Regions from separate parts of the Homo sapiens genome. Here regions 2, 3 and 4 are each linked to region 1. The links come from fine-mapping of genetic effects on gene expression. A gene starts in region 1. Each other region holds a variant in brackets. All regions are shown on one strand. Distances are between the middles of the regions.

Region 1 (8,109 bases):
ATTCCTCAAGGATCTAGAACCAGAAATATCATTTGACCCAGCAATCCAATTACTGGGTATATACCCAAAAAATATAAATCATTCTACTATAAAGACACAGGCACACATATGTTTATTGCAGCACTATTTACAATAGCGAAGACATGGAACCCATCTAAATGCCCATTAATGATAGACTGGATAAAGAAAATGCGGGTACATAGACATTAGGAAATACTATGCAGCCATAAAAAGGAATGGGATCATGTCTTTCACAGGGACATAGATGAAGCTAGAAGCCATCATCCTCAGCAAACTAACGCAGGAACAGAAAACCACATACCACACGTTCTCACTCATAAGTGGGAGCTGAACAATGAGAACGCATGGACACAGGAAGGGGAACAACACACACCAGGGCCAATCGGGGATTGGGGTGTGACAGGAGGGAGAGCGTTAGGACAAATAGCTAATGCATGCAGGGCTTAAAACCTAGATGACGGGTTGAAAGGTGCAGCAAACCACCACGGCACATGTACACCTACGTAAGAAACCTACACGTTCTGCACTTGTATCCCAGAATGTAAAGTAAAATTTAAAAAAAGAAAAAACAGGAAGAAAAAAGGAAATTTTTGTTGCCTATTCTGACTGTATGCTAAGTGATAAAGCACAACCCTCTGAGTGGGCAGTGCAACTCCGTGGTTGAGCAGACTCTGCAGTGGAGTGCTTGGGTCTGAATGTGATTCTGCCATGTACTGGTTGTGTGACGGTCAGCAGTTATTTACCCTGTGCCTCTGTTTCCTCATCTATAAAATGGAAAAAATAATAGTACTTAACTCATTAGCTTATTGTGAAGATTAAATAAGCTAACATAGGTATCTCCAACTTAACAGCAGTAATCAATTTCTGAAAATCAGACTTCTGGATAAAAACCTGGATCCTATTTTATATTATTTTAAAGGAAGAAAAATGTGAATGTGTAACAAATCAGCCATTCCTACCCTCCAGGCAATTTCTTAAATTGCAACTAAACACAAAAAAAATTTCTATATATACGTAAACTCACATTAACATGTTAAATGCACAAAACATCACTTCTTGATCACTAAATAACACTAACATTAATGCAGGAACTTTGTGTTTAATATGCAGGAACATGTTTTCCATTGAACCACTGCAATCATTTTTTTTTAACTTTGCTTCCTTCTCTACAACTTTCTCCAGTGCATTCCCAACTTTATTTGGAACTCCTTGTTCCAATTTACATTTAGCCCTAGGCAAAAGCAAGCATTAGCTATGAAAGACAGCAAAAAAATAGGTTCCAGATCAGGACACAGTGGTAATGAAAGGATCACACTGAGCAGGATGGTGAGAGCTGCTGGGCATCAGCAGCATCCTAAAGGGCACCTCTAAAGTGCACCCCTTTTTATTTTGTCAAGAGTAAGGGTCTCACTTTGTCACCCAGGCTGGAATGCAGTAGTGCAGTCATGGCTCACTGCAGCCTCGAACTCCTGGACTCAAGTGATCCTCCCATCTCAGCCTTGGAGAAGCCAGGATTACAGGCTGGAGCCACCATACCTGCCATCTTGGCTCACTGCAATCTTTGCCCCTCCCCGCCCCTCTGGGTTCAAGCAATTCTCACCTCAGCCTCCTGAGTAGCTGAGTAGCTGGGACTACAGGTGCTCACCACCATGGCTGGCGAATTTTTGTATTTTTAGTGGAGACGGGGTTTCACCATGTCGTCCAGCCTAGTCTCTTAACTCCTGGCCTCAAGAGATCCTCCCGCCTCCGCCTCCCAAGGTGCTGGAAATACAGGCATGAGTCACCACGCCTGGTCAATACCTGCACTTTTTAAAGGTTTAAACTGGAATCTCATCTCTTACCAACTGTATTCAAAATGTCATTTTTTTTCTGCACAATTTTTTGTTGTTGGTGGTGGTGGTGGTAGATTTTGTTTGTTTGTTTTTGAGACAGAGTCTCGCTCTGTCGCCGAGGCTGGAGTGCAGAGTCGCGATCTCCGCTCACTGCAACCTCCGCCTCCAAGGTTCAAGCGATTCTCCTGCTTCAGCCTCCCGAGTAACTGGGACTACAGGCACTCGTCACTGCGTTTGGCTAATTTGTGTATTTTTAGTAGAGATGGGGTTTCACCATGTTGGCCAGGCTGTTCTCAAACTCCTGGACTCAAGCGATCCACTTATCTCAGCCTCCCAAAGTGCTGGGATTACAGGTGTGAGCCACCGCACCCGGCTAGACCCTCTCTCTCTTAAAAGACAAAAAAATTAAAAACCAAGTTTAAAAATGTTGTATTGAGTTTTTAGGATGTGAATATATATTTATTTCCTACATAAACATCTACTGGAATATGTCAAAATGAGGATTCTTGTTTTTGTTTTTGACTTATGGGTATCACAATCTATGAACCTCCTTAAGAGGGGAAAGGGAAAACGCTAAGTTTGGGGAAAGCCTTTAGAACAAGTCTAGCCAGTAAAGGTTTGCTGCATTATCCATCTGAGTCATTAACTTTGTCAATAGTTATATTCTGTCACTCATTCATTGATTCATTCATCCCTTCCAAAAATATTTTTGGAAAATTCACTTCAGGCCAACTTCTGTTGCTAACCTTGAGGGGACATGGTAAATGAAATACGTTCCCCTCCTGCGAGAAGCCAACATTTTAGGGGGGAAAATGAAGGCCGACTGTGGTAGGTGCTTCGATGGAACTAGGAGCTGGTGACAGAGGCTAACTTCAGAGAAAAGCTAGCCCCGGGTGGGAGGCAGGATCCTCGCGCGGATAGCAAGGTATTCGCACCCTCGGTCTGCACTGCGCAGTCGGGCGCCAGAAACCCTCCAGGCCCCAGCCGGGTCCGAGGGAGAAGGGTGCGGTTGGATTCAACACCCGCCCCAGGGAAAGAAGGTGAGTCTATTCGGTTTGCAAGAAAGGTCTCGCGTGTTATCTTGGGCGGGGGGATGATACGATCGTATTCTAATTATCGGCCCCCAGTGGATCTGTCCCGCGTCCTAGCTGCTGCGGCGTTCAGTGGGCACGTAAGAGACACCTGAGGAGGACACTAAACCAACATTAAGGCAGCAGACAAGGGAAGCCGCCGAGGCTAGGAAATCAAAGTGGACCGCGCTGGGCTGGGGACGGGCTGGGGACGCACTGGGGCGGAGGACCAGGGCACAGGCGAGCTAGCGGAGGAGTCGGCTGAGGCCATTCAGCCGCTGATTTTCGTCCTGGAACGGACTTCGCGTAAACACACCGAGCCATTCAGAGCTCTCTCCAAGTCACATTCTGAGGCTCCGGCCCCGGAACTCTGGGCTAGACGACCCCGCCCCGGAACCTTGTGTTACCGGCACTAAATGCAGAAGTTCCTCTGGTTGCCACCGGACGCAACTGTCAGGTGACGCTTCCGGCGCAGAAAAATGGCAGCCGCCGCTCCGGACTCACGTGTGAGTGAGGAAGAAAACCTGAAAAAGACCCCAAAGAAGAAGATGAAAATGGTAACTGGAGCCGTAGCGTCGGTGCTGGAAGACGAGGCCACAGACACTTCTGATAGTGAAGGTAATGTGGTAGGGCTGAGCTTTGGTGTCTGGGAGGAAAGGCGGGGCTGAGTTCGTGTCAAGCAGCGCTTGCGACTTCATTTGCTGCTAGCCACCTGGGTTTTATCTTGGCACCACTTCAGAGGGGCGACTTTGGCTTAGTGAGGAGGCTTGGGGAAGTCGTGTTCAGAGAAGTAACGCTGTCAACTGTAATTTTGAGTTTCCACATTCTTTTACTAGGTATTTTCAGGGTCACCATTATTAATTATAATAAAATGGGTGAAACACCTGCAGCTACCGAGAAACTTACAGTAGCAAAGGGTGAAAGGAAGAGGGTACTTGAAAACAGGAGAAGAATGGGTCTCATAGGGTGTAAGAAGCAAAAGGTTAAAAGAGGTAAGAGGAAGAAGGGGGTGTACTTGACTTTTTGTGCGGTAGATGTGTGCGTGTTTTAGAGACTAAATAATAGTGAATGAAAGAAGAGTTTGGTGGTTAAGGTCGATTAAAAACTGGTAGTGTTTGATAACTATGTCTCTCAGAGACGCTTGATAATAAAAGGAAGGAAGGATGTGTTTTTGAGGCTTTCAACCATGCTGTGTCTGTTGCTCCTCTTTACCATCATTCTTGGCACCAGCTTATTAGGTTACAAGGAATTGCAGGTAATCCCTGACTTCCTACTGCCCAGTTATTGCTCCTTTGTACCAGCTGATACCCAAAAAACAGACAGAGCTATTCTTTTATAACGTATTTCTAATTATGCCCGCTGTCTGTTTGAGATGATCCAGTGGCTTCTCATCTCAGTATATAATATCCAAAATCCTTAGGCTGTATGATTTGGGCCAGGTTGTCTGTCATAGGCCAATATGCCCCTCACAAACCACTAACTGTAATCATGCCATACCGGTATGCTTGTGTTTAACACCTTAAACATGCTCCCACACCATGGTTTCTTCATTTGTTGGCTCCGCTGCCTAGAATAGTTTTCAAATGCTTGGCATGTCTCTCCCTCACCAGCCTCTGATCCAGTGCCTTACCAGAGAGACTTGTCCCTGACTACCCTATGTAACGTACCACCACTACTCTTCTTCCTGCCTTCTTTTCTTCACTTTTTGACTTATTGCCCTGCTTTATTTTTTCTCAACCCTGCCCAAACCATTTGATGTATGTATTTGCTGCTTTCCCAATTGGAATATAAGTTCCATAAAAATAGAGCCTACTGTATCCCCAGTTCCTATTGCCTTGTGGGTCCTTCACAGATATTTAAGTAAATGAATGAATTAACCTGGACTTCCAGGACCAAGAAGAAAGTGTCATATGCTACTGCAATTCCTAGGTAATTAGAGTCTTCATCTCCTGCCACATTGTTAAGGAAAACAAACTATTTGTTGGGCCAAAATTAGAACTTCTGGTTCTGATATTTTTTAAATTCATTAGACTAGTTCAAACACTATTGTTCAAGAAGGGAAGAGTACTATATTTGCTATATTTGGAGCAAAATGTCAGTACTGCTTACAAATTGGATTTTTCTTTTTCTTTTTGAGACAGGGTCTTGCTTTGCCACCCAGGCTAGAGTGCAGTGGCACAAACAGGGCTCACTGCAACCTTGACCTCCTCCCCCACCGCCCCCCAAAGCGATCCTCTTGCTTCAGCTTCCCCAGGTAGCTAGGACTACAGGCGCATACCACTGTACCTGGCTAATTTTTTTTTTCTTTTTTTTTTTTTTTTTTGGTAGAGATGGGATTTTGCCATGTTGCCCAGGCATGTCTCGAACTCCTAGGTTCAAGTGATCCACCCGTCTCGGCCTCCCAAAGTGCTGAGATTACAGGTGTGAGCCAGCACACCTGGCCAAATTGGATTTTTCTATTCAAATACTGGATAATTCCAAGTTGGAACTGTTCTGACTTTTCAGCGTATTATTATAAATGCTGATTAGGTTTTAAGGTTCTCTTGCTGTTATAGATCAGCCACATTACGGGTTAAAAAGGTTTTTGGCCAATATGGAAACCTAATTTATCTAATTCAATTCAATGAACACTTGTTGTGTTCCCTTAGGTTCCAGTCACCCTCTAGGTGTTGAGGATACAAAGGATGAATATATTTCTGCATTAAAATTTCAGTTTTAGGAAAGATATTAAACACAGGACTGTAATATAGTGTATTAGTATAATTAAAAGGTAGTTTTCAAGATCATGGTTCAATTTTGGAAAGGTAAGGATGGAGACAGAGAAATTCATATCCTCTGGAACCCAGCCTAGGCGTTGCTTACTTATATCTTACGTGTATTATTGATAATATACTATGTTATTATATTTTAACATATCTCTCTCCTTATAGAGATAAGTTCCCCAAATGTCAAAAGTATGTCTTGTTTATTTTCACAGGGTCTTCTTTGCATACTTTAGTATTCAGTAAATTGTTTTGTTGAATAAATGTATAAGGTGGCATTCTATCTAGGCTTTAGAAGGATGAATAGTTTTCCTGACCTGGGAGTATAGAGGGCAGTTTTCTCAGACATAAAAGCATATACAGTGGCATGCGGTCTCTTAAAATTCATGGCCTATTTCAGACAAAGTAATCTTCTGTTATGGCTCCAGCTGTTCAGAGAAGTGACTAGAAGTAAAACTGGAAACAATGGTTAAAAGTAGATTATAAAGGGCCTTGTGTATTTGTAGGCAGCAGGGAGCTATTGAGAACTTTTAAGCAAGATGGTGACAGTTGTTTATAAATATTACTGCCAGATGTACGGTGACTGCCAAAGAGTGCCAGGACAGTTTGTAGGCAATTGCAAAATTCTATGTTAGGATCTGCACTAGGACACAGCAGTGAAGACAGAGAAGGGCCCCACTTGAAATATTTTTCAAAAAGAAAGTATTCAATTTTGCAAACAGGCAACTTTCATGTGAGCTTATAGCACCATAGGTTTTGGGCATACTACACTGTTAGAGGAATTGGATAATAACAATAGTTATACTTTTGGAACTTTCCTATGTGCCTGGTTCTGTTCTGAGTTCCTTCTATATATCAGCTCAGAGAATTCTGACAACTCTATGAGATAGATGCTGCTATTATCCTCCTGTTACATTTAAAAAACTGAGGCACAGAGGCTTATAACTTGCCCACTTCTGTACATAAGCAGATAAGCAAGTTGATAAATGATACAACAATTATTGAAGTTTGATTGTAGAGCTTATGCTCTTGACCACTACCTTAATATGTTTGAGGAATCAGGAGGACATAGATAATTTTAAAAAGTATCTGGAAAGTGAAAGCGTTGGGCCTTTGAATCTAAGGAAAGAAAGGATTGGGGACAAGGAGACTTTGGTATGGAGACAAACTTTTCTCCCTCCCACTCAAGAAGATTTCATCACCAAGGGACATTTTTGTGTTCAGATTTCTATAGCACTTCCAATGTTTATAACCAGAGTATTCTTTCCTTCCTTCCTTTCTCCTAAAATCCATATGTTATTTCTGGAAGCAAATTCCCCTGTTCACTCAATTGTATAAGAGGCACCTGTGATGGTACTACCTTTCAGAGTGACTTTGTGCTAGTTATTATTATCTACCCCAATTTCCTCATCTACAAAATGAGGATAATAATAATGTCTACTTTAGGATTGTTGTAACAATTAAATGAGTTTATATATGGTAAGCATTTAATATTTGGCACATGGTACCCACTCATAAATATTAGTGATGACGATGATGTCTCTTCTGACCTAAAAAAACTGCTAGTCCCATCTCTTTTTGCCAAATAAGTTTTCCCACCTTTGGTAATGTGGTATTTGTAAGCTGGAGCTCTCCCCAGAAAAGAGGTTTGAATTATTCTAGTAACCCTGTAAGGTAGCTGATGGCATTTCTATTTTACAGATAAGAAAAGAAGCTTGGAAATAGTGCTTCCAGTATATCATATTGCTTCCTAGTAGAAAACTGTTACCTCCATAGGTGCAAGATGTTATCTGTTATTCCACTCGTTTTATTCCATAATCTAACCATTAGATCATATATTTTTGGTAAAATTCAAGATCAGTGATAACGATGTTGATAACAATTGATTGTGTCTGCTTGGTTATGCCATAGACACATTTTCTTTGCCAAAGCTGCTTCTGTCTCTAAGAAAGACACTGCCATCTACTCCCATCCAAGCTGGAAACACAAGTGTCATCCTTTAGTCTTCCTGTTGCTTCCATATCTATTTGGTTTAATTAATCCATTTATTCTGTTGCCACTACTTTAGTTCTTGCCCGCATCTCTCTCTCTCTCTTTTTTGAGATGGAGTTTTGCTCTTGTTGCCCAGGCTGGAGTGCAATGGTATGATCTCAGGTCACCCCAACCTCCACCTCCAGGGTTCAAGTGATTCTTCTGCCTCAGCCTCCCAAGTAGCTGGGATTACAGGCATGCACCACCACACCCAGCTAATTTTGTATTTTTAGTAGAGACAGAGTTTCTCCATGTTGGTCAGGCTGGTCTTGAACTCCTGACCTCAGGTGATCCACCCACCTTGGCCTCCCAAAGTGCTGGGATTACAGGCATGAGCCACTGTGCCTGGCCTTGCCTGCATCTCTTTTGTTTACATTAGTTCATAGGGTACCT
Region 2 (8,109 bases), 37 kb after region 1:
TTACAGTCAATGAGTGTCATTATACTTTTTGTTGCTTAAGTTTGCAAATGTGGCTGTGAGAACCTGTGTAAACTGGCTCATGTGTCCTTTTGGCATGACCTCATTTTCTTTGAGTGATTCCTTGCATTCTGGGACAGGATGTCCAGCCCAAACCTTGTGCTTTCTGTGTCCCAGACCTAGAATCACCTGTTTCTCCAAAGGGGTCTGATGGGACCAATCTATTTATTTCTAAATTGTTTGTTGAGTTCAGTAGATTTATAGTGTGCATATTCCTTACTAGATGCAGCTTTGTTTTGTTTATATAGCATTTCATAGTTTTGCAAAGCACTTTTACATATGTTTTCTTATGTAAGCTTTTTAGCAAATTTGTGATATCAGGAAGACGTTGGTATCTATTTTTCAGCTGAATTCACAGCTCTGCTAATTTTTTATAAATCTGGATTTTCATTTATATGCTATATAATATAGCAGATAAAATGTGCTTTAAGAGACTAATTGGCAGAGTGTATCTGAATATTTCAAACAACTAATTTACTATGAAAATGAATAGAGCACTGTCAAAAGGCTCCCTGAAGTGTTACATTTGACTTTTCAGGTACCTTAGGTTTTTTTTTTTTTTTACTATGTTTTATTTCTTTTTTTTTCTTTTATTTTATTATTATTATACTTTAAGTTTTAGGGTACATGTGCACAATGTGCAGGTTCGTTACATATGTATACATGTGCCACGCTGGTGTGCTGCACCCATTAACTCATCATTTAGCGTTAGATATATCTCCTAAAGCTATCCCTCCCCCTTCCCCCCACCCCACAACAGTCCCCAGAGTGTGATGTTCCCCTTCCTGTGTCCATGCGTTCTCACTGTTCAATTCCCACCTATGAGTGAGAACATGCGGTGTTTAGTTTTTTGTTCTTGCGATAGTTTACTGAGAATGATGATTTCCAGTTTCATCCATGTCCCTACAAAGGACATGAACTCATCATTTTTTATGGCTGCATAGTATTCCATGGTGTATATGTGCCACATTTTCTTGATCCAGTCTATCATTGTTGGACATTTGGCTTGGTCACCTTAGTTAACTTTAACTTACTTAGAGTTCTTAAGATAATTTAAATGTTGAGGAAAATCAATGTTGAATTAAGAACTAAATGTATGGATAACAAGATGTATAATAATAGAAACCACCAAATAGAACCGCTTTGAACAAGGACATATGTAGTGGGTACATATGTCCACATTTTGCCATAAACGTTTATTATAAAATCAAGTTGTTTTCCACCCCATTCTGCACACTCTTCATAGCTCCTATCTCAGGGGCCGTAAATGAAATTAAAACAAAACAAAAAAAAAATCAGTGGGCGAAAAAAATTGAATCCATAAAGTATGTTTTTAACTACAATTGCAAATAGCTTACTGAAAATTTTTAACAACAAAGATATTAAGATGAATTTAGTCAATGTTAAGAACTTTTTAAAATTTAGGTGAAACTGAGTTAAAATGAAAACTGAACTTTCTTGTTAGGGAAAGCAATGAAATCAACTATTGTTGATTACTAAATATAGATGAGACTATATTGTTTCTTTCTTTATGGTTTGATTTTAATTATCCCCCACCCCAGCAAATGAAATGAAGTTAACCATCTCATTGGTGTGAGATGAATGTGTAATTCCAAACCTTCTTTTTCAGTGTTCAGTGGCTGCCAATGTATGTTTGCGCTTTGAAATGAAAGCTGATTAACATTTTTAAGGGTTGTCTTCACCTTCAAAATGGACACAGACTGCTTCTGTATGGTTTCAATTCAATATTTGTATAAAACTAGGCCAAGGAAGGTGGGGACTGTTTGTTTCCTTGCATCATGCAGTTTTCGTTAAGTTCTTGCATTTAGTCACTTTTACTTTTCATTTGATATAAGCAGAAAGAGTTGTATAGGTTGCTTTAAGTCTTTGAATCAGTGCTGCCTTGCAGCAACACTGAAAGACTCCGTAAGTTGATAAAAGTTTGGTTATTTCAGTTTATACTTTACGATTTATATTACAGTTAGTTATGTTTAACAGCTAACACAGCTTCCATCTATGATAGTAAATACCTATGTCTAACATGTACAGTATGGTTAACTTTATCTTATAGCTATAACCAGTTAATAAAAAATAATAAATTTTTTATTTCTTTCAAGGCCTGTACCTCTAAAACTTTCTAATTTGCAGTACTGGAGTCAATGGCTTATCTAAGATTCAAATCCAGAACTCTCTTTTTATTCCTTTTATAAAAAGAATATACCAAATTGCTACTTCTCTTTTACAAACAAAACAAAAAACCCTTCATTCTCAGGATGTCTTAACATTTAATGAAATCTATTCAGGGATCACCCCAAGCAAGCTTTTCCGATGAATGACACATTTAGAATTTGCCTCAGGCTTTTTTTTTTCTTTTTTCTTATATTAATCTTTGATCTACCTTTTTTTTGTGTGGGTGCTCCAAGTATTTAAGAAGTTTTTATACTTAATGGTAAATCATATTTATGGAAAAGATATAGCAAATTGAAATTATGTCAATCCAGTGTGTAATGTAATTTACTCCAAATCTTTTATGGAAATTACCTTAAGCATATTCAGCATTTTGCATGTATTTTAGTCCTCATTCATAGGTTATAACAGGTTATATAAGAACACAGTATATTACTGTATTGTGTTCATATCATCAGTTAAGTTTTAGAGAAGTTTAGTGTTGTGGAAAGAACATGGGCTTTGGAATCAAATGGATCTGTGTTTGGGTATAGACTCAGCTCTTTATTAACTCTGAACTTGAATAATTACTTCACTTCTCTGAGCCTTAGTTTTCTTATAAGGTAAGCATGATACTTGCTATCTGGCCAGGAATCTTAAGAGAATTAGAAATAAGGCAATATTATATAAAGTGCTTGGCACACAATGAGTTCATAGTATACTTATTGTGTTTGACCCTTTTTCATTTATTGTTAGGAAGTAAAACAGAATCATCATTGTTAATAAAACTAGAAGGATTTCTTAGGATATTTTTGGGACGATCTTGGTAGAAAAAAGCTTGGGAAACTTAGGATTTGTGGAAATGGTTTAGGTGTACTTTTTTTTTTTTCTGTTTCTTGCTGTCCCTTTTTTTTTAAATTCTTTACTTATACATGTAGTTTAAAAAGCCACATTTTGCCATAAACGTTTATTATAAAATAAAGTTGTTTTCCACCCCATTCTGCCTACTCTTCATAGCTCCTATCTCAGGGGCAACTAATTCTTAATTCTCTAGCTAGTCCTGCTGGCATTTATACATCTCTGTATTC[T/C]TAATGTTACAGGATCCTTGGGTGTCGCTTCACCAGCTGGAAACCTCTGTGACCAGTGGTGCCTTTGCCTGTTTTGCTCGGTCCTATGGGCTCGTTTTGCCCACTCAGCCTGGCAGTCTGCGCTCGGCTCGTGCTACCAGCCTGGATCCCATGCCTGCCAAGAGCGAGGGATGTATGAGCGAGAGTGGGGTCCTGCCACTGAACACAGCCAGGCATGCCAGCTGCGGCAGGGTCCATAGCTCCCGGCAATGGCATGGGCGCCGGCTACTTGCGAGGCTGCAGCTGGACCAGGTGTACTGTAAGCAGCTTCCATGGCCGACACCAGGGAACGTCGTGGCGTTCTGGAAGCTTGGAGATGCCAGTAACTGCAGAGCCCTAAAGAGGTGTCACAGCCCTGGCTCAGGGAGCTCCTAGGTCTGGGCTTCCCGAAGGGCTGCAGCTCTTCTCTCCTTCTTCTTTCCTTGTCACCTGCAACGTGGTGAGCAAGGGACATATTTCAGCGCTGTTTGTGTTACACCTCTTTTAGCCCCGCCGTTCGGCAGGTCCCGAGTTCTTGTGCTGCATCCAGGAAGAATGAGGTACACAGACAAGTGGAGGATGAGCAAGATGAAGAGGAGCTTTATTGAGCGATAGAACAGAGGAGACCCTGGGGTGGATAGCTCCTCGCTGCAGCTGGTGGTCTTGTTGTCTCTGGGTCTGGCTGAGTTCGGGGCTTTTTATGGGCCTTAGAGGAGAGGAACTGAGTACCAATTGGTCCATGGGCTACCGTGGATGGGCCCAGAAAAAGCACTACAAGTTCCCACTCTGGTCCCCAGGACTGGCAGCCCGGTCCCCAGGCTTCGGGCCCTCCCTGGCCTGAAGGTGGGGCCTCACCGGGGACCCTCCCCCTTCTACCCAGAAGCCTGTCTGCTTCCTGCCACTGCTCATGGCGCCCAGACTGTTCTGGCCAAGGAGTGCCTGCAGGTCAATGCTGAGCTGCCCTTAGCCCCACCTCGGCCTCCCTCTCATGCTTGTTGGCACCCAAAGTCCGGAGGGGGCCAAGGGGGCAGGGGCCTGGCATGTCAGCGCTGCCCCCAGTGTGCGTATACCCAGCTGGGCTGTAACAGTGCCCGGGTTCCGCTCCAACCTTGCTCTGAGATCAGAGCGGGCACTGGGAGCGGGGAGAAACCGGGCAGTGGGAGAAGATACTTCCGAGCCTGCAGGGGCAGGGGGCGCCTTCCTGGCCCCCTCCACTCCAGAGTGCAGCCATACCTAGGTCTGCAGCCGGGACTTGGGTTGCTGCAGCTATTCCTGCGAGGGCGGGGCTTCTGCCTGCTCCCAACTCCCACCAGCTCTGTGGAGCCTGGCACCGTCCCAGGCCCAAGTCCTCCTCTTGGCCCCTCTCAGCCTGCCCCTCCGTGCCTGACTGTGCTGCTCCTTTGCTGGCGGGTGACTTAGTCTGGCCCCATCGCTGTGATTCCCAGGAGCGGGCCTGGGAACTGGTGCCTACTCCATGTTTTCCCTGCAGCAGCAGCTGCAGGGGAGGTGCAGGTGGCATGGCCCCTGCCAACCCCGCACAAATGAACCCGACGCTCTGGGGGCTGGCCCCTTGAGTCTTGCCTGCACCTTCGGCCGGGTACTCGCGGGTTCCCAAGACGCGGCCGGCAGTGAGGTTGAGGCCATGGCAGAGGCTCCGGGCCTGGGAGTGGGTCCTGCCTGCCTGTGTGAGCGTGGGTGTGACACAATTATCTGCCTCAGGGACGCGGGGCACAAGGGTTCCAGCGCCGCCACTGCTGCTTCCGCTCCTGCTACCACCGCCTGCACCTCCCTGCTGCAACTGGTGTGATGGCAGCAGCCACTCCGGATGGTCGGCCACTGCCATCACTAACTCATGTGCATATGTGTAGTCGTATCTTTTGATTAATCAGTTTGAGGCATTATCTATTAGTTTTCTGTTTTAGTAGGCAAAGATTTAATTATCTTACACAGTCTCTTCTCCTTTGGCCACTCAATGTAGTTTACAATTATAGTTGTCAGTATTCAGCATTTCTTATTCGTGTGAAAAAATTATTTACAGCTGAATGTTGTAATATTCCATATTTATATGTTTCCTTTCTATTTTTCCTGAAGTTAATCATTGTCTTGACTTTTCATATTTAATTTCCTTTATTAATTTAGTTTTTTGAAGTCAAATGATCTGAAGTGATGTATCTATTTTAATTATTTTCTCTGAGATATTCTTTCCTAGAGGCCTCTATTTTCCTTTGTATCCCCTGATTGCTTTCTTGGGTTGCTTCACTCTTGTCATCTGGGACTTAAATTTTCTTTGATCCTTGGAATTTCTTCTGGATTGAATTCCCTATGTCTGGGTTCTTGGATCTTCCTTTTTTTCTTGGTTCACTCTCACTCTTTTGGTAAAGCATATTCTCCAGCGGTTTTGTCAAGTTAAAATAACATACAGTGACAGATGTCATGGTGATGACCGCTTTCAGCATGCCGTCCCACGGAGTCACTTGGCTGCAGGTTGTCCTTCATGCGTGATGTGTAGTTGTTATTTTGGAATCTCCATTCATTCTCATCCTGGCTGTTTCCTTCTTTTTCCTTTGGTGGGACTCCTATTTTCTCTATCCCATGTTTTCTTCTTTTTGTTTTACTCCATCTGTTTATGGAGAACATCCTCAGTGTCCTGAGAAAGGCTGCATTGGAAGTAAACTTTTGGGGACCTCGTATGTCTGAAAATACCTCTGTTCAGTATTCACATTTCAATAATAATGTGTCTCAATATTGAATTTTAGGTTGGATATTATTTTCCTTTGACATTTTGAAAGTATTTGTCTATTGCTTCCTTGCTTTCCAATATTGCTACTGGAAAATCTGAATCTTTCGATTTCTGATTATTGGTATGCATGTGACTTTTGTTTTCCTGGAAGCTTATGGGATATTCTTTTAGTTCCTGTTGTCCTGAAGTTTTACAATAATATTCTCATTGTGTCCTGGACACTCGAGGGCTGGTTTTAATCTGGAAATGTGTGTCCTTCACTGGGAAATTTTGTTAAAGTATTTTATTAATTTCCTCCTGTACATTTTTTCTCTGTCTGTAGAACTCCTATTATTTGCATACTGGGCCTCTTGGACTGGTTCTCCAGTTATCTTTTTCTTCCATTTTTCATCTCTTTTCTTTTAGTCTATTTTCTGGGCAATTTCCTCAGCGTTATCTTCTGACTTTTATAATGTGGTTTTTTGTTTTGTTTCTTCCACCATATTTTTAATTTTAAGCTCTTTGTTATTCTCCTAATGTTTCTTTTAAAATAGCAACTGTTGGCCGAGTGTGGTGGTTCAGGCCTGTAATCTTAGCACTTTGGGAGGCCAAGGTGGGTGGATCACGTGAAGTCAGTAGTTTGAGACCAGTTTGGCCAACATGGTGAAACCCCATCTTTACTAAAAATACAAAAAATTAGCTGGGCGTGGTGGCAGGTGCCTGTAATCCCAGCTACTCGGGAGGCTGAGGCAGGATAATCGGTTGAACCCAAGAGGTGGAGGTTGCAGTGAGCCAAGAATGCACCATTGCACTCCAGCCTAGGCAACAAGAGTGAAACTTCATCTCAAAAATAATAAATAAACAAGGTGAAATCAAATAACAACTGTTCTGATTTTATGGATGCAATATATTTTAACTCTTTGAGGATGTTGATGATATTTTTCCCTAAATTTTTTTCTCTTGAGATTTTTGTTCCTACAAGTCGTTTTTTAAATTTTGTGTTTGCATTGTTCTCTTCTTTCTGATAATCCTTAGTTGTGTGTTCATGATTAGAACAAATAGACCAAAAAATTCAACTGGAAGCTATGAATATATGGGTGTCATCCACCTTAAATTTCACTGTAGGGTTCTCTGGGTGAATTTATTAGCAACTTGTCAGGTTTTCAATAAAGTAACTCTTCCAGTCTCCTACTTAGAAGAAAAAGGTCTGCGTACCAGCATTTTGGGAGCCCAGTGTGAGAAGAGAGCTGGGATTCAATATCTGGTTGCTGTGTGTGTGTGTAACTTAATCCCATTTTTGGTTCTATACCTATGCTTTCATCTGTGCAAGCCCATTACCTCTTCAGAATTTAAACCTCCAGGTATTATGCCAGGTTATTGTGGAATGGGATGGGGAAGTAGAGCACTAAATGTTTCTCAAAGCATACCTTTCACCCCAGTGCTTTTTATTTTGGTTCTTCCACTTCAACCCTTAACTTCCAGAAGTCCCTGATACATACTGCCAGTTTCTGTTTCTTTTGCAGATTCTGCAGTGTAAATAGGGTTGGTTTTGTCAGTGTGATAGTTGCAGTCTTAGGATTTAACTTTCCTGGTGTCTTCTGGTCCATCTCCTTCACCTTCAAAATTGTGTTGATATTGTCTTTTCTGATCTTGACCTTCTGAGTTATGTCTTTAAAACAACAAATCACTTTTCTGTAGTTTTATTGAATATAGCAGTTGAGCAAGACTAGTTGTTTATGTTCAAACTGCCACTTTAGCATGGGCCCTCTGCCTTTTTTCTTTCTACGTGTGTCTTTAGCAAATGTAGGGATTAGAATTTAAAGAGTCATTCTGCTGCCTTTAAAACAAGGTTTTCTTTATTTTTTTGAGACAGAGTCTTACTCCGTCGCTCAGGCTGGAGTGCAGTGGTGTGATCTCGGCTCACTGCAACCTCCTCCTCCTAAGTGATTCTCCCTCCTTAGCTTCCCCAGTAGCTGGGATTATAAGCCTGTGCTATCATGCGTAGGCTATTTTTTGTATTTTTAATAGAAGCGGGGTTTCACCATGTTGGCCAGGCTGGTC
Region 3 (8,109 bases), 25 kb after region 1:
TGAAAATACATTTTTCCTATCCTCAGAGTTTGTATTCTAGGGTAATTATTTAATACATCATTCTGGTCATTTTATATTCTACAGGGGTGTGGTGCAATTATTTAATGCTGTTCAGAAACATCAAAAGAATGTTGATGAAAAGGTTAAGGAAGCTGGAAGTTCTATGAGAAAGCGTGCTAAGTTGATATCAACTGTTTCCAAGAAAGATTTCATCAGTGTTTTGAGAGGGATGGATGGAAGTACAAATGAGACTGCTTCAAGCAGGAAGAAACCAAAAGCCAAACAGGTAAAAACTTTTCTATAGGATTCAGTGTATCAGACTTTCAGCTCTAAAACTAGTCTTGAGATGGAAAACCAGACTATAGAATTACAGAGTTTTGTGTTTTTTTCCTAAATTTTATTAAAATTCCTCCATGCCCGCAACCTTTAGAGATAGGGCTTGCCTCTCTCCTATCTGAAATCCTGCCATTTTGCACATTTTGGAGAATAGAAGCCTGTGTGGGCCACAGCTTTAATTTCAGACTTTACCCATAGAGGGTGTGTAACTTACAAAATATGAAGAGTCAGAGAGTTTTAGGAAATAATGGTAGAAAGTCATTCTTGCATTGAGGCATCTTTAGTGATGTTTGGTTGAGAGATTAAGAGCATAAATACTTTCTATGACCTTTGGCATGAGAACTTTGCTTCTCCAGCTGCCTCAGTAGTTTCTTTCTTTCTTTTTTTTTTTTTTTTTTTTTTTTTTTTTGATGGAGTCTTGCTCCCTGGCCCAGGCTGGAGTGCAGTGGCGCGATCTCGGCTCACTGAAACCTCCGCCTCCCAGGTTCAAGCAATTCTCTTGCCTCAGCCTCCTGAGTAGCCAGGTTTACAGGCACATGCCATCACCTCCGGCTAATTTTTGTATTTTTAGTAGAGACGGGGTTTCACCATGTTGACCAGGCTGGTCTTGAACTTCTGACCTCAGGTGATCCACTCGCCTCGGCCTTCCAAAGTGCTGGGATTCCAGGTGTGAGCCACCGAGCCCAGCCAGTAATTTCTTTTTAATGTACCAGGTGAAAGGTTTTGAGATGTGCTTTACTTTTATAAGCGGTGGGTTTCTATTGTTGTCGTTTTAAAAAAGCAAAATATGTAGTTATATTTTGATGGCTTGATTTCTGTTGCCAAAACCAAAGGTACTTTTAATCAGTCAGGAAATGAGAATTTCTGTCATAAATTTTTTTGTTTGGGAAAATAATTGAAACCCGAGCAAGAAGAGCATTTAGGAATTTTATGCTAGCCTAGGGTTGGAGCATTTTTTAAAGTTTCTTAAGTTCATATTTTACCTAAGTGACAAAAGTTTTTGAATCTACTTGTCTCTTTCTTGAATATCAAAGGGCTCAAATTGTATTTTTATATAATAATAGTTCTCACTAGTGCTGCTATTTTAAAGTGTCTATCAGAAGTACTTGTAAATACATGAACACTGTGTTTGGGGATTTATACTTTTTAGTTCAAAGGCTTTAATAGGCTGTATTCTCGCTAGTAACATTTTACTGTAAGAGTTAGAGAAAGATTCAGCAACATTGGATGGGAAAGAACTAGTGGGAAGATGAAGAGACTTAGTTTTTTTTCTTTTTCCTATTGGTTTCAAAATAACATTTTATAGAAGCACATACTTTTGCTTTGGGATTATTTCTTTCATGAGTTATGAAAATACACAACAGATTCTTTCCACTGGCATTGTATTTTTTTCTTACCATTTGCACTTGCCCTTGACTTTCTTTTTTTCTACTTCAGTGATCACAGTATTTGTAAGTCTGGGACAAGGTCAAAAATTGCTTGAGACTTAAGCCAAAGTGATTTTGCTCTAAAAGTAATTTGTTTCTAGAACACCCTGCCCCATGCCATCAATACCCTGACATATTTCTTTCTTTTAAAAATGTGTGTTTTCATGTTGATTGCATATTTATGGAAAAACAGACTCCTTTTTAAAAATTTTGCTTGAGTTTGCATCTGAATAACTATGAAAGTACTACACTGTTTGAGATTGGATCAGTTACTGATATAAAGCATATTTCTTGGCTGGATGCGGTGGCTCATGCCTGTAATCCCAGCACTTTGGGAGGCCAAGGTGGGCGGATCACGAGGTCAGGAGTTCGAGACCAGCCTGGCCAACATGGTGAAACACTGTCTCTACTAAAAATACAAAAATTAACTGGGCATGGTGGCACCCACCTGTAATCCCAGCTAATCAGGAGGCTGAGGTGGGAGAATCTCTTGAACCCGGGAGGCAGAGGGTGCAGTGAGCCGAGATTGTGCCACTGCACTCCAGCCTGGGTGACAGAGAGAGACTCCATCTCAAAAAAAAAAAAAAAAAAAAAAAAAACATATTTATTAAGTGCCTGTTTCTACCAGGTGTTATCCTTGTTGTGTCCTTTAAAATCTTACAATTAAGATGGACAAATGACTTCAAGTAAATAAGTAAGCAAGATTAACTTGATAGTAGGCAAATTCTAAATTAGTATGTCAAGTACACGTTAACATTAGTTACACCAGCTCTAACAAGATGTACATTAAGTGGCTACCCCTGTGTGAAGGGAATTTCAGAGTAACGGTGTACTATTTATTTAGAGCATAGATCATTATATCTATGTATGTTACTTGAAATAGGTGAACTTTTAAGGTAGATCAAGGGAAGGCAGGGTGGCAAAGGTGAGCATAGATTTGATGTGCCAAAGTGCTATTCAGAAATGAATCATTGATGAGCTAAATAAAGGAAGAGATTAAGAAAGTAGAAAGTAATATTTGCCATTTTTTCTTATATTTAACCTTGTCCTAGCACCATAGCTATTGTACTCTTTCCTCATAGGTGTTCCTTCTCTCATCATAAAATGGAACAAAAGAAATCTTATTGTTTTCCCTTCCCTGGGCTGTAATGATATTCAGAGCACAGATTTTTAAATTCAATATTCCTAATATTGTGAAGTCTCTAAAATTGGAGGCCACCCACATATAAACTAGATTTCACTGGCAGCCATCTATCAGGATACCAATTTGGAAACACCTTCATTTTAATGACTTCAATTCTTTTTCCCAGTTATATGTGTTATTCAGTTTTGACATTAAAGTCTTATGTTCAATAATCAAAAGAGGCAGGAGTTTTATATTAAATATGGATAGAATTGTAATAATATAACATAGGTTATATACATTGAGCCCATTATAGTTAACCATACTTTAGGAGTGGTTTTGGTGTTTGGTTTTGTTTTCTCCTAATGTACACATGACTTGGGAATTTATTTTAAAGAA[C/CCCT]TTTTTTAAAAAATAATTGTTATAGAAATTTCATATTTCTTCAAGGTATAAGAAACAGACATTGTGATAAATGTTTTTTAACTGTGATAGGGCCCGAACAAGTCATTTTTCTTTTTCTTTCTTTCTTTTTTTTTTGAGACAAAGTCTTGCTCTGTTGCCCAGGCAGGAGTGCAGTGGAGCAATCTCAGCTCATTGCAACTTCCGCCTCCTGGGTTCAAGCGATTCTCCTGTCTCAGCCTCCCGAGTAGCTGGGATTACAGGCGTGCACCACCATGCCCAGCTAATTTTTGTATTTTTAGTAGAGACAGGGTTTCACCATGTTGATCAGGCTGGTCACGAACTCCTGACCTCAGGTGATCCGCCTGCCTCGGCCTCCCAAAGTGCTGGGATTACAGGCATGACCCACCATGCCCAGCCGAACAAGTCATTTTTCTTAGAGTCTTTTCTGCATTAGAATTTTATTATCAAAGCAATAGGAGCACAGTATGAAAACTGAATTTATGGTTAAATAAAATAACCACTGCCCTTTTCCATTCTTCTCTATACCTTGGCAACTCTTAGTACTTTCTTCTGGTATTTACCTCCATATCTTAAATAATATTTACACTATTTCTTTATCAGTACTAGATACTATCTTTCATGGAAGATAAAGTTGGTTTTCCTCACACCTCTCCACATTCTGTCCTTCCAACATAGTATATTAAAATTTCTTACACTAGATTGAATACTAGTATTCAATGTGAATATTGTTCACTGCTGAGCAAAATAATATACAATAATAATACTTACTTTCTTCAGCTTTGTTACAATTTTTATTTTTCCTGGAGTTATCACTTGCCTTTTTTTTCCTTTAGTTTTGTATATGCCAAAATCCTTCCATACTCTTCAAAAGAACTGTTAAGCCCTTCTCAGTAGTATATTTCTTGTGATCATCCTGCTGCTACTCTCTAAACTGGTTGTTCTTTACCTGCTGTGCACTGTCATTTTGCAACATTGCTTTATCCCCTTCCTGGGAATTCCATTTGCCTCTCGCCTCTCTCCTATGCAGTATCCTCTGTTTTTTCGGACTAAACGTCTTATTTTCTCTTGGCCTTCTCCTGCATTTTAGTGATGGCACAGTTTTCAGCTTTCTGGGAGAGAGTATAGGTGTCCTTATTTTTTATTGATATGTTGGCCCGATAGATGGCTTCCAATATTTGGAAAAGGGTTTTTGCAGATGCAGTTAAATTAATGATCTTGAGATGAAGGAGGTAATCTCGAATTATTCGGGTAGGCCCTAAGACCAGTGACAAGTGTTCTTAGACACATAGGAGAAATTTGACAGACAGAATCGGAGCAGGCAGTGTGACCATGGAGGAATAGGTGGGAGTGATGTGGCTGCAAGTCAAAGAATGCCAAGAAACACCAGAAGCTGGAGGAGACAGCAAGGGATGGGTTCTCCCCTGAAGCCCCAAGAGGGAGTGAGGCTTTGCCAGATATGGGCATCGGGCCTCCACAACTGTGAGAGAGTAAATTGCTATTGTTTTCAGCTACCTAGTTTGTAGCAATTTGTTATGGCAGCCACAGGAAACTAATAGAACATAGATGTCCATGTTGGAAAGTAATTTTCTCTCAGAAGTTTGAGAGAAATTTTTTCTTTCTTTCTTTTTTCTTTTTTTTTTTTTTAGCCATTGAGCGGTTCAGTGCTGCTCTGCTCGTTTTGATTCTTTTCTTTTTGGAACCTTTTAAGACCTTCTCTATCCCCGTTCTTAAAACATTTGTAGTGAATAATTGGTAGTCACTAATTTTATTTTATTTATATTTTTGTGAGATAGGGCTATGAAAAAAGATACTGTTAGTGGATGTGAGAAGACATAAAAAAAGAATGATTCTTAGCCAATAAATAGAACTTTGGGGTAAAATGTTGAATGTTAAATTCAGTGGAGATTTGGTTCTATGGAATGAATCAGATCACCACATATTTCATTTAGAAACAAGAAGAGGAACCTTCTTTGCCAAATTGTTTTAGTAGCTGTTCTGGGTGGTACATATATTGCTCACGAAATTAGAAAATCGTAAAGTTGGAAAAATTGTGATGTGGGGATAGTCATAGGAAATGTGACTCAGGAGGAAAGTACTTTAGAAGAATATAAGAAACTTAGCTTTGATTTTTAAAATGGCATGAAGTAAACATGGTAAGGGGGAAAAAGCCTGCCAGTTCTGTAATTTTTCAGATTCCTTATAGTTTTCTTTCCTGTTTTCTTCCATGGAAGTTGGAATGTAGGATGTTTGCTAATGAGTGGGGAGTTAGAAAAAGGGATTCTGAGGAAGTAGGTTGGCATTAGATTTGAAGTGTCCTATCTTGAGGAATCTGGACTTTATTCCTTACGCATTTGGAGGCCAATGCCATAAGGTAAGTGATCTGGTCAGATTTGATTTTTCTGTCTTTCTCTTTTGATTTATTTCAGCTTTTATTTTAGACTAAGGAGGTACATGTAGAGGTTTGTTACAAGAGTAATATTGTGCAGTGCTGAAGTTTGGGGAATGATTGAATCTGTTGCTCAGTTAGTGAAGATTTCATTATTTTTAAGGAAAAGAAAGGGCTGAAGGATGGTCAGAAGACCAATTAGTGGAAGACAATTGCCATAATTAAAGCAAGGGGAGAGAACGTGAACTAAGATTGTGTGGGGTAAATTGGGTTGGGGTGAAGGGAAAAGAAGAATCAGATTGGAGAGGCAATTTTAAGGTATAGATTGACTTGATTTGTGATTAACATGATGTAGAGGGATATGGGAGAGGGAGGATTTATTAATAACTCAGAGGTTTACAACTTGGGAGACTCAGAAATGGTGACAGCTTTCACCAAAATAGAGAATATAAAATATGGAACATGTCTGAGAGGTAAAGATTTTTGGAGGCAGTGACTGCTCCAGGTTATAATCAGAAATGAGAAGGATGACAGTAAAGATCAGGTTAACAGCAGCAGTGTGGCAGAAGCATTTGGTTAGTGCGGGAAATAGCATGGCCAGAAACAAGGAGGCAACCAGAATAGCAGAGTATGGTGAGGCCACCTGGGGCAGGCACTAATGAGTCCTGTATGTCTTAGTAGGGTTCCTGAATCTTTAAGAATGATTAACTTGTTTACTGAGTCAGGGAAGATGAATAGTCTATTTTAGAGAGTTTTCCACATGAATAAATGTAATATCTTCTAGGTTTAGATAACTAATTTTCAGTTATTTGGAAGGAATTCCCTAATCCAGAAGCTGTAATTCTTCGATCAAATACAGGAAGCATCATCCCAATTACATACCAACATGTGGCAAGGCATATTGACCAATATCTTGATGTTGACCCCGAGTGATTTTTATTTTATTTTATTTTATTTTATTTTATTTTATTTTATGTTTTGTTATTTTATTATTTTTAAAGAGATGGAATCTTGCTATGCTGCCCAGCCTGGTCTCGAACTCCTGGGTTCAAGTGATCCACCCACCTAGGCCTCCCAAAGTGCTGGGATTACAGGCATGAGCCACCATGCCTGGTGACCCTGAGTGATTTTTAAAAATATTACATTGTATTTAGAACACTGTTTAAGGAAGCAACAAAAACATATTTTTTAAGTAAAGTTTTATAAAAAAATTAAGCTTTAACTCTTAAAGGATTAATACCTCTGTTCCTCTATTCAAAACATGTTCTTATCTAGAGTGATTTGTTTCTCAGTATGTTAATCAAGATTTTATTAATGTAGAGGCATTAATTTTTTTTCTTAGCTTTCAAAGTTGTAATTATTCCTTTTAATGTTTTCTTGAAAAGCCAACTAAAATTCAATCAGATTTCTTGGAATGTAATTCTGTTACTCTAAAGGCCGACAGAAGCGGATGTGATGTTAAATCTGTGAGTCTCTAAGGAGAATATATTGGCTGCTCTTAGGAAAGCATTGGCTTTACTTGTACTCTTGAATTACAGACTTTCTACAAGGTTTTCATTTATTTGAAATTGCCAATATATCAATTTCAGGTTTTTTTTTAATAATGAAACTGAAATTATAATTTTATAGTAAGGGAAAATGCTAGCTGGTTTCTGTTAGAAAATGATTTTTTGGCGGGACATGGTGGCTCACATCTGTAATCTCAGCACTTTGGGAGGCCGAGGCAGGCTGATCACAAGGTCAGGAGATCGAAACCATCCTGGCCAACATGGTGAAACCCCGTCTCTACTAAAAAATACAAAAATTAGCCAGGCGTGGTGGTAGGGGCCTGTAATCCCAGCTACTTGGGAGGCTGAGGCAGGAGAATCGCTTGAACCTGGGAGATGGAGGTAGCAGTGTGCTGAGATTGCGCCACTGCACTCCAGCCTGGTGACAGAGAAAGGCTCCATCTCAAAAAAAAAAAAAAAAAAAGAAAGAAAGTGATTTCCTTAGTGATTGCTAGACAATAATTTTTAATAGAAGTCCCTAGGAAAAAGAGTTACTGGAAGAGTCCAGGTATTTATTTTTTCTGATTTTGTGGTATGAGCACTTTAAATGTCATACATAGAGGTAAGGTAGGGTACTCCTCTATTTCTCATTTATTTGTCATAAATGGCAACCTTGTAATTTCTTCATAGGTAAATAATTAGTGGTGAGAATGCTTTTGAAATACCTGGCTTCTTTGGTATCTTACAACTTAGACCCAGACTCCAAATTGCTATGTACTTTTAAAAATGTGCATTTCTTCTGGTTCTTAGATCTGCTGAATTCTTGCTTCTAAAGACAGAAGCCTAGGAAAGGAGGACTTCCTCACCCAGGTCCCTTGGTGGGCCTCTGGCTATTTTCATTATTTACTTTTGGTTTTTCTAAGGCAGGAT
Region 4 (8,109 bases), 57 kb after region 1:
TTATTCTGTAACTTGCTACTGGATAATTCATTATAGGTCTTGCCTGAGCATGTCTGATAATTAAAACTTTATATTTGAATTATCTGGATGCTGCAGAAATGGAACTACTCTACTGAAGTGGTATCCAATAATTTACTATATACAGCTATTGGTTTTTTATTCCTAAGATACAATATATTGGCTATTTGCTGCTCTGTTACTTAATGACATTAGATGACTCATAAATGTAAGTGGTTGACATTTTTGCTATTAAGAATTTAGATATTCAAATTATGCTTTATAAATGAGGATTAGATTTTTATCATGTTATTGCCTAGGAGATAACAGGTAACTAAAACTTGATAATTAAGGATATCCCATTGCTGTTGATCTAGCATCTTTTCTAAAAATGCATGTTTTACAATATTTATGTGAAACTAATTTTTATTTGATGTGCAGTAACAACAAATCAATGCAAAATTATACATTAATGAATTTAACAGTATGAAGTTTTAAGACATACCACAGCTTTCCTCTAGGTGGCATGATTTCAGCTATCATTGAGTCAACTGATAAAAATCCTTTTTCCCTACAAGCACACGAGTATGTAGTTTCTGAACAATCAGTATAAGTGTGACATTGATTAGATTTAATTGTTACAACTGGTTAAATAACCAGATTGACCTTATAATAGTCTATTGTTTAATGATCTTAAGTAACTTAAAATTGTAAGACAAAGTCCTCTTAAAGAAACAGATACAAAAAACTTGTTACCTCCAATAACCCAGCAGGCAAAATTATTTGTCTCTTCAGGTCACAATGACACACCCATTTCTGGATTTATTTCTTTGGCATATATTTATTTCTTATGGTAGATAGTGCTATTTGCTTGGAACAGTAATGATACTGCCTTTTTACTTAAAAGGACTCATATAGATGTAACAAATCTAAAGAGAAACCACAAATGGTAGGATTCTTGATCACAAAAATTTTCACGTTAACAGGAAACAGCCCCTTCAATTATGTGAAAGTAACTTTCCTGGTGTCCCTGGTTTTATGAAGCAGTTACTGTGTGCTAAACAAGAAGGATCAACATGTGAAAAGTCATTATTATGTGACCTGCAAGCATCAAACAACAAACAGAAACACTGTTCTTTTTTTTTCTGTACTGGCACTAAAATGGGAAGGGGGGCCAAACTCGTTTTTACCTTTGGGATTCTTTTTCTGTTGTTGATTTTCAAAAATTTAAAAATGAATTTCTCTGGCTATACAAAGAATACATAAAATGCTTGTTAATCCCATTATTGTTGTATTTATCTTCTCCTACCTTTCTCTGTGGGAGACTGCTTTCATGGAGCTCAAAAGAACTTGACCAAGCACCTCTCGGGGGTTCATTTTTGTGGCAGTGCAGGTTTATATTAATGCTAAAATTGTGCAAGTAGCATTTTCAAAATGTATCTCTGATGGTGATTTTTAGAATATGCTGCATAGGCAAAGGAAAAAAAAGGTCTTGGAAGTATGCAAAATATAATATCACCACTGTAACCGAAAAAAGGTGAAAGACTAACAGATGTATTCTTACAGATTTAAAGTGGCTTCATTTTAAATAAGGTAATTATCTGGGAGAGTCCTGATTTACCCCTGTTGTCTTAGTGTATCAATGAGTGGCATCCTCTTTACTGCAAAAAATGTTTGGATTTGTGTGACAAATGATGTAGCTACCCTAGTTATGAGAACTTTATTTTCTACTAAGATTTCAAATAATCATCAGTGAGAGTTTGTGGTCTGTAGTCTCCCGTTTTATAAATTATAACCATCTATATAGCTGTGCTTTTCAAAATACTTACATACTTAGGCTTTTAAAAATACTTATTTACTAATTTTTCCCTCTATCATAAACTACACTGAGGTTTTCTTTTTTTATGCAATTACTATTGACCCTTGGTTTTTATTTATTTATTTTTTTTTTAATTGCAGGCTAATCGAGGCAGCAGAACGGCATATTTGTTTGAAATGTAGGTTGGTAATTTTGGCAGTGGAAATTTAGACATTTGGAATTTTACCCAATCTATGAAGCCCACTGAGATGATGACAGACACATAAATTCATTTAAAGACCATGTATCTTTAAAAAAAAAAAAAAAACTTTTGTTATATTATACTCATTTTAATTATGAGAACACAGTCATATTTTTCTCTATCACTCACCTTCTCTTTTTCTTTCTCATCTTTTGTGTTTATTTTTAGTTGGCCAAAACACTCTCTCCATTTCTCCCCAGCAACCTCATTCTGGTTTCTTGCTTTGTGAAGTCTATCTGTGAACTTCTGTGGTGACAGAGTAAATGAAGGAGGAGTAGAGATTCTGTAAAGGTGAGTGTCAAGTACTGCCCTAAAAAATAAGGAAAATTCTGCTGCTGGTTTCTTTTTGTCAACATTAGGATTTTGTTAAGCACTTATCCATAGCGTTATGCTGTGTCCCAACTATTACCATATGTTCATTTATTTATATCAGTTACTAAATGCTATCTTAGTGGGTGAATTTCACCAGGGGCAAGAAACCAGAGGCTGCAGCTACAGGGATGACATAGCACAGGCCACTGTGAGACTGCCTCCCAAAGAAAGACTTTCCTGGAGAGCTAAAATTGTAGAGTTATGAGTGGCCCAAAAGCCACAAGCAGTAATCAATCAACTAATCATAATTCCAAAGGGTGAGATAATGTTCCCACAGTGTATCATTAGTGTGATGAGTTTATCTCTTTAAAGCCTCACAACCTGCTGATATGCTGTGGTTTTTCTTGGTCCTATCTCTTTATCTTTTACCACCTCTGATCTCTTTAAACCCACCCTGTTTCCATTTTCCTCCCCGCCCATTGTTTCCTCATTTTTCCTTAACACTTCTTCCTTAGATTAACCTTTAAATACAAATGGAAATAATAATCGGATTATTTTTTGTAAGGAAACCACCTTTCTGTTTCATTATTCATAACTAGAATAATGAAATAAAGCTGTTTATAGAAATGCATCTAGAACATGAGACAAAATTGATATAGACCAAACATTGTTCTTGAATAGTGGTATCAAATATAAAATTATAAATAAAATCTTAAAAGACTTTTGGTGTATTTTCATATTAAAGGGTTATTTTGCATTTATCAAGTATCACTATTTGGGGGGAAATGTAATCAATTACCGTCGTTCCATGTATTTCTTTTTTTCACCTCCTGATTTTTCATGCTTGAAACCGTTCTGGAAAGCTTCCAGAATTGTTACAAATGAAGTTATGCTTTGGTCAATGTTAGTAAGGACCTATGATCCATAGGCGTAAAACTCCAGGACAGGGATGAGTAGTTTTGTTTTCTTCAGCCTCTTGTAGAAATCCCACATTACTTAAGTGAATAGACCCATTGATGAGTGGAGAATGGCTAAGAGTGGAAACAGCTCCACTCTCTACCTCTGTAATTTCAAAACAAAAGATTCCATTTGAGGGCTTTAATAAGAGACTTTAATCGTGAATGCTTAACTGAACTTTGATAGTCATTTAGCATTTTATTCACCAAAAGTGTATTTTCTTGTCCTTCCCTCCTATAATTACTGGGGGCAAAATACCATAATATTTAAAATGTGCCTACAGAAACTACTAGGAGGCAGAACTAGAAGCAAATTCTTCTTGGGTTCTTTCCTGGCTTTTCAGAGAGAGCGAGAGAGAGAGAGAGAGAAGGCCAGATATTTTTATTATAAATTCCTTGACAGAAATAAAGACATGATAGGATAAGAAACTCACAGAGTCAGTGAGTAACTTGTTCAGGATCACAAAGCCAGAAAGTGACAGAAATCTGAACCCAAAAAACCATGACTGGAGCCTGCCCTTTAAACCACTGTGCTCTCCTGCCTCCTTGAAGTAATCAAGATGGGTGTATATCATTTAAATACCCTTTTACCATGAAGACTGTAGAGACCCCGGCACATAAGACCTCCATTAAATATAGAGATGAAAAGGCATTATAAGAGCCATTTAATAGAAGAAATGATTCATTTACGGTTACCAGGGAGACAGCTCTAGCAATCTTGCC[G/T]GTTAGGTCTTCAAAGAACTGATCATTTGAGAGGTGGAAAGGGGCTCCTCCTCTCCTGCTATACTCACTTACTGCACTTACCCATTCCAGAAGCTTTTACCAATACCTCCCGTCTTACCCTCCTGGGCTTTGGGGAAATTAAAGTAGCCTCTTATGAGTAAGTCAGGGGTCTCAGGTCTAAGGAGTTGTTAAGTGAGCAATAGGTACTCAGTAAACTAAGTATTATGAACAAAAGTGTGTATGTCTATGTCAGGAAGAGGGGTGGCCATCAGAATTTATGGCTTGCGCTGTTTTCCTAGAAGTGATGTAAATGAACTTTTGCTACTCTATCCACACTCTAATCTGAATCTACTTAAGGTGCATCAGTGTCTGTACCAAGAAGGTTGTCTATAAACATGAAAGATGCTCACTGGCTTGTGGAAGCTGAACCTGTATCCTCAGCAAAATACAGTGATAGCTAATTCAGGTAACCAGCCATATTCCACAGCAGCATCTTCTCTCAGTAGCTCTGGTTTGGAGCTCCTGCTCTGTGTCTATAATGGCCACAGGTGTAAGAATATTCACTTTTTGTCCAATCTGTAGAGCTAGCCTACTGCAGTTCTCAAACTGAACTCAGAGGGAGGACCTAACTGGATGAAACTACTAGTCTGACAGTAGCGCCTCTTGATTATCTTTTTCTTGGGCTACTGGGATGGTAGCTTTGCTTCAACTCAAAACTGGTATCAAGGAAAGGAACCTGCTGGTGCTGATTTATACATAATTTTTAGAATTATTCAGAAGTGGGTTGGAACAATTATTTTATTCCAGAGTTTTTCAATGTGTGATAATGGAAAAAATTCTGTATTCAAGGGAGTTTGGAAAATGCTGGGTTAAAAGAGTGAAAAGGTTTTCTCTTCTACAGGAGTTTCAGAGCCTTTAACATGATAATGTTCCAGAATGAGGAATCTAAGAGGACAGGAGAGTACCCAGTATCTCCCAAACTTGTTTGACTCCAGAATTCCTGTTTGTCAGAACATATTCTGGGACCATTGTTTCTCAGAAGTACATAGTAGGTAAGAACATAGTGGATCCTGACTGCAAAAATCCAGCTCTACCACTTACTGTGGTCTCGAACAAAGTACTTAACTTCTTTGTACCTCAGTCTCCTCATCTGCCAGATATGGATAATAAGACCCACTTTATAGGTTCATAGTGAAGATTAAATGACCATACACAACACACATCAAATTACTAAGTGTAGTATATGTTAGCTATTATTATTTTATTTATTCAGTGCTCTACTAATAACCTAGGCCCCATACACAACTGAAGTATAAATTCCAAAAGTGATAGAAAGTTCTTTGTGACTTTTCTGAACTCAGGAACATCTGAAGTAGAGAACAGTATAGAGATCTTGGGTTTGGGAGTACATTCAACAGAGTTTCCAGTTTAAATCATCTGTCTGGTCAGTATGGCTGCAGAGTCATGCCGAAATGAAAATGTTGACTTTGAGTAACTAAAGGTAAAATAAAAGAAAAAGGGAAGGTGGAACAGTGGTAAGAGTTATTCTTGTATTCATCTAATTTAGACTTAGTTGAAATTGAAAATGTCAAGTTATGAGTAGTGTAGAACAGTAGACATCAAACACTTAAAATTCCAGCTTCCTGGATTAATGCTATGGAAAGAATGAAGTTGGTTGATAATGTTTAGCCTAGCAAGAAGGTGAAGAAGAAAGCCATACAAGAAGTGGCTTAGGCAGCAAATTATAAAGGTGACCATTCATTCAAATCAGTAAAACAAACAAGTATACCTTATTCTTTAGGTAAAATTGATGGATCTCTGTTTTCCAGCAGTTCACAAACAGAGGGGTACATTGTAAACAACAAACTAACAAAATAAATTCTGGGATGGCAACCTGCTAAGGTATCCCAGAAAATAAGAGGTAGGACATGAATTTAAAAGATTGGAAGGTATGTCTTCAGTACTGGCCTGGCCCTGAGTAGACTAGTGCTCCCTCCCATAGGGGTGCGTGTGCACACATAATACAGGAGGGAAGCCTTCCCTTCTAGAGCAAGTGATTCAGCTTGGGAGGCTGTGACTGAGCTACACTAAGTAAAAACGGGAGACTTGATTGTCCTTCCTTCAACAGACCTGTCCAAAATGACTGGAAAGTAAATACCGTAAATCACTGTTGTCAGGGCGCACATTCCACCTCCTTCCTCCCTTACCCACAGCGGTCCTCATTTCCACACTCCCTCAACGGTTCGGGGAGAGCTCGTGGTCTAAGTAACGAGAGGACTTCTGACTGTAATCCTAGCACGTCACTTTGTTGAAGGCAGACACGTGGTTCAGAGAGAACTTATAAATCTCCCCTCCCCGGCAAGATCGTGATGTTATCTGCTGGCAGCAGAAGGTTCGCTCCGAGCGGAGCTCCAGAAGCTCCTGACAAGAGAAAGACAGATTGAGATAGAGATAGAAAGAGAAAGAGAGAAAGAGACAGCAGAGCGAGAGCGCAAGTGAAAGAGGCAGGGGAGGGGGATGGAGAATATTAGCCTGACGGTCTAGGGAGTCATCCAGGAACAAACTGAGGGGCTGCCCGGCTGCAGACAGGAGGAGACAGAGAGGATCTATTTTAGGGTGGCAAGTGCCTACCTACCCTAAGCGAGCAATTCCACGTTGGGGAGAAGCCAGCAGAGGTTGGGAAAGGGTGGGAGTCCAAGGGAGCCCCTGCGCAACCCCCTCAGGAATAAAACTCCCCAGCCAGGGTGTCGCAAGGGCTGCCGTTGTGATCCGCAGGGGGTGAACGCAACCGCGACGGCTGATCGTCTGTGGCTGGGTTGGCGTTTGGAGCAAGAGAAGGAGGAGCAGGAGAAGGAGGGAGCTGGAGGCTGGAAGCGTTTGCAAGCGGCGGCGGCAGCAACGTGGAGTAACCAAGCGGGTCAGCGCGCGCCCGCCAGGGTGTAGGCCACGGAGCGCAGCTCCCAGAGCAGGATCCGCGCCGCCTCAGCAGCCTCTGCGGCCCCTGCGGCACCCGACCGAGTACCGAGCGCCCTGCGAAGCGCACCCTCCTCCCCGCGGTGCGCTGGGCTCGCCCCCAGCGCGCGCACACGCACACACACACACACACACACACACGCACGCACACACGTGTGCGCTTCTCTGCTCCGGAGCTGCTGCTGCTCCTGCTCTCAGCGCCGCAGTGGAAGGCAGGACCGAACCGCTCCTTCTTTAAATATATAAATTTCAGCCCAGGTCAGCCTCGGCGGCCCCCCTCACCGCGCTCCCGGCGCCCCTCCCGTCAGTTCGCCAGCTGCCAGCCCCGGGACCTTTTCATCTCTTCCCTTTTGGCCGGAGGAGCCGAGTTCAGATCCGCCACTCCGCACCCGAGACTGACACACTGAACTCCACTTCCTCCTCTTAAATTTATTTCTACTTAATAGCCACTCGTCTCTTTTTTTCCCCATCTCATTGCTCCAAGAATTTTTTTCTTCTTACTCGCCAAAGTCAGGGTTCCCTCTGCCCGTCCCGTATTAATATTTCCACTTTTGGAACTACTGGCCTTTTCTTTTTAAAGGAATTCAAGCAGGATACGTTTTTCTGTTGGGCATTGACTAGATTGTTTGCAAAAGTTTCGCATCAAAAACAACAACAACAAAAAACCAAACAACTCTCCTTGATCTATACTTTGAGAATTGTTGATTTCTTTTTTTTATTCTGACTTTTAAAAACAACTTTTTTTTCCACTTTTTTAAAAAATGCACTACTGTGTGCTGAGCGCTTTTCTGATCCTGCATCTGGTCACGGTCGCGCTCAGCCTGTCTACCTGCAGCACACTCGATATGGACCAGTTCATGCGCAAGAGGATCGAGGCGATCCGCGGGCAGATCCTGAGCAAGCTGAAGCTCACCAGTCCCCCAGAAGACTATCCTGAGCCCGAGGAAGTCCCCCCGGAGGTGATTTCCATCTACAACAGCACCAGGGACTTGCTCCAGGAGAAGGCGAGCCGGAGGGCGGCCGCCTGCGAGCGCGAGAGGAGCGACGAAGAGTACTACGCCAAGGAGGTTTACAAAATAGACATGCCG

Alleles and levels. Positions count from the first base shown, and alleles are read on the strand shown. Sizes are in standard deviations (SD) of each study's normalised expression.
For the expression in testis of the gene that starts at base 3,379 in region 1, allele C in region 2 goes with a higher level than allele T (large effect, 0.93 SD a copy in GTEx).
As copies of C replace CCCT in region 3, the expression in stomach of the gene that starts at base 3,379 in region 1 goes down (small effect, 0.25 SD a copy in GTEx).
As copies of G replace T in region 4, the expression in minor salivary gland of the gene that starts at base 3,379 in region 1 goes down (moderate effect, 0.46 SD a copy in GTEx).

Evidence for each region.
Region 2: its variant is fine-mapped to the expression of RRP15 in testis (GTEx, PIP above 0.99). The same link has a PIP of 0.9 or more in caudate, fibroblasts, hippocampus, pituitary, tibial nerve and whole blood.
Region 3: its variant is fine-mapped to the expression of RRP15 in stomach (GTEx, PIP 0.95). The same link has a PIP of 0.9 or more in breast.
Region 4: its variant is fine-mapped to the expression of RRP15 in minor salivary gland (GTEx, PIP 0.93). The same link has a PIP of 0.9 or more in subcutaneous fat.

What each region holds. Positions count from the first base shown.
Region 1 is chr1:218,281,915-218,290,023 of GRCh38, forward strand. RRP15 (ribosomal RNA processing 15 homolog) reads left to right here and starts at 3,379. Exons shown (of 5, transcript NM_016052.4): 1 at 3,379-3,541. The coding sequence starts at 3,403. RefSeq lists enhancers at 2,757-2,826, 3,357-3,636.
Region 2 is chr1:218,319,413-218,327,521 of GRCh38, forward strand. All of the region lies in intron 4 of RRP15 (ribosomal RNA processing 15 homolog), which reads left to right. Among named protein-coding and RNA genes, the nearest start is that of TGFB2, 22 kb to the right of the region's middle. The variant T/C (reference allele first, on the strand shown) is at 3,312.
Region 3 is chr1:218,307,347-218,315,455 of GRCh38, forward strand. It overlaps RRP15 (ribosomal RNA processing 15 homolog), which reads left to right. Exons shown (of 5, transcript NM_016052.4): 4 at 85-286. Among named protein-coding and RNA genes, the nearest start is that of RRP15, 26 kb to the left of the region's middle. The variant C/CCCT (reference allele first, on the strand shown) is at 3,286.
Region 4 is chr1:218,338,920-218,347,028 of GRCh38, forward strand. TGFB2 (transforming growth factor beta 2) reads left to right here and starts at 6,417. Exons shown (of 7, transcript NM_003238.6): 1 at 6,417-8,109. The coding sequence starts at 7,783. It overlaps TGFB2-AS1 (TGFB2 antisense RNA 1), which reads right to left and starts at 6,759. Exons shown (of 3, transcript NR_046268.1): 1 at 6,684-6,759; 2 at 6,256-6,469; 3 at 5,277-5,543. RefSeq lists a silencer at 6,345-6,404 and enhancers at 6,785-6,834, 7,966-8,109. The variant G/T (reference allele first, on the strand shown) is at 4,049.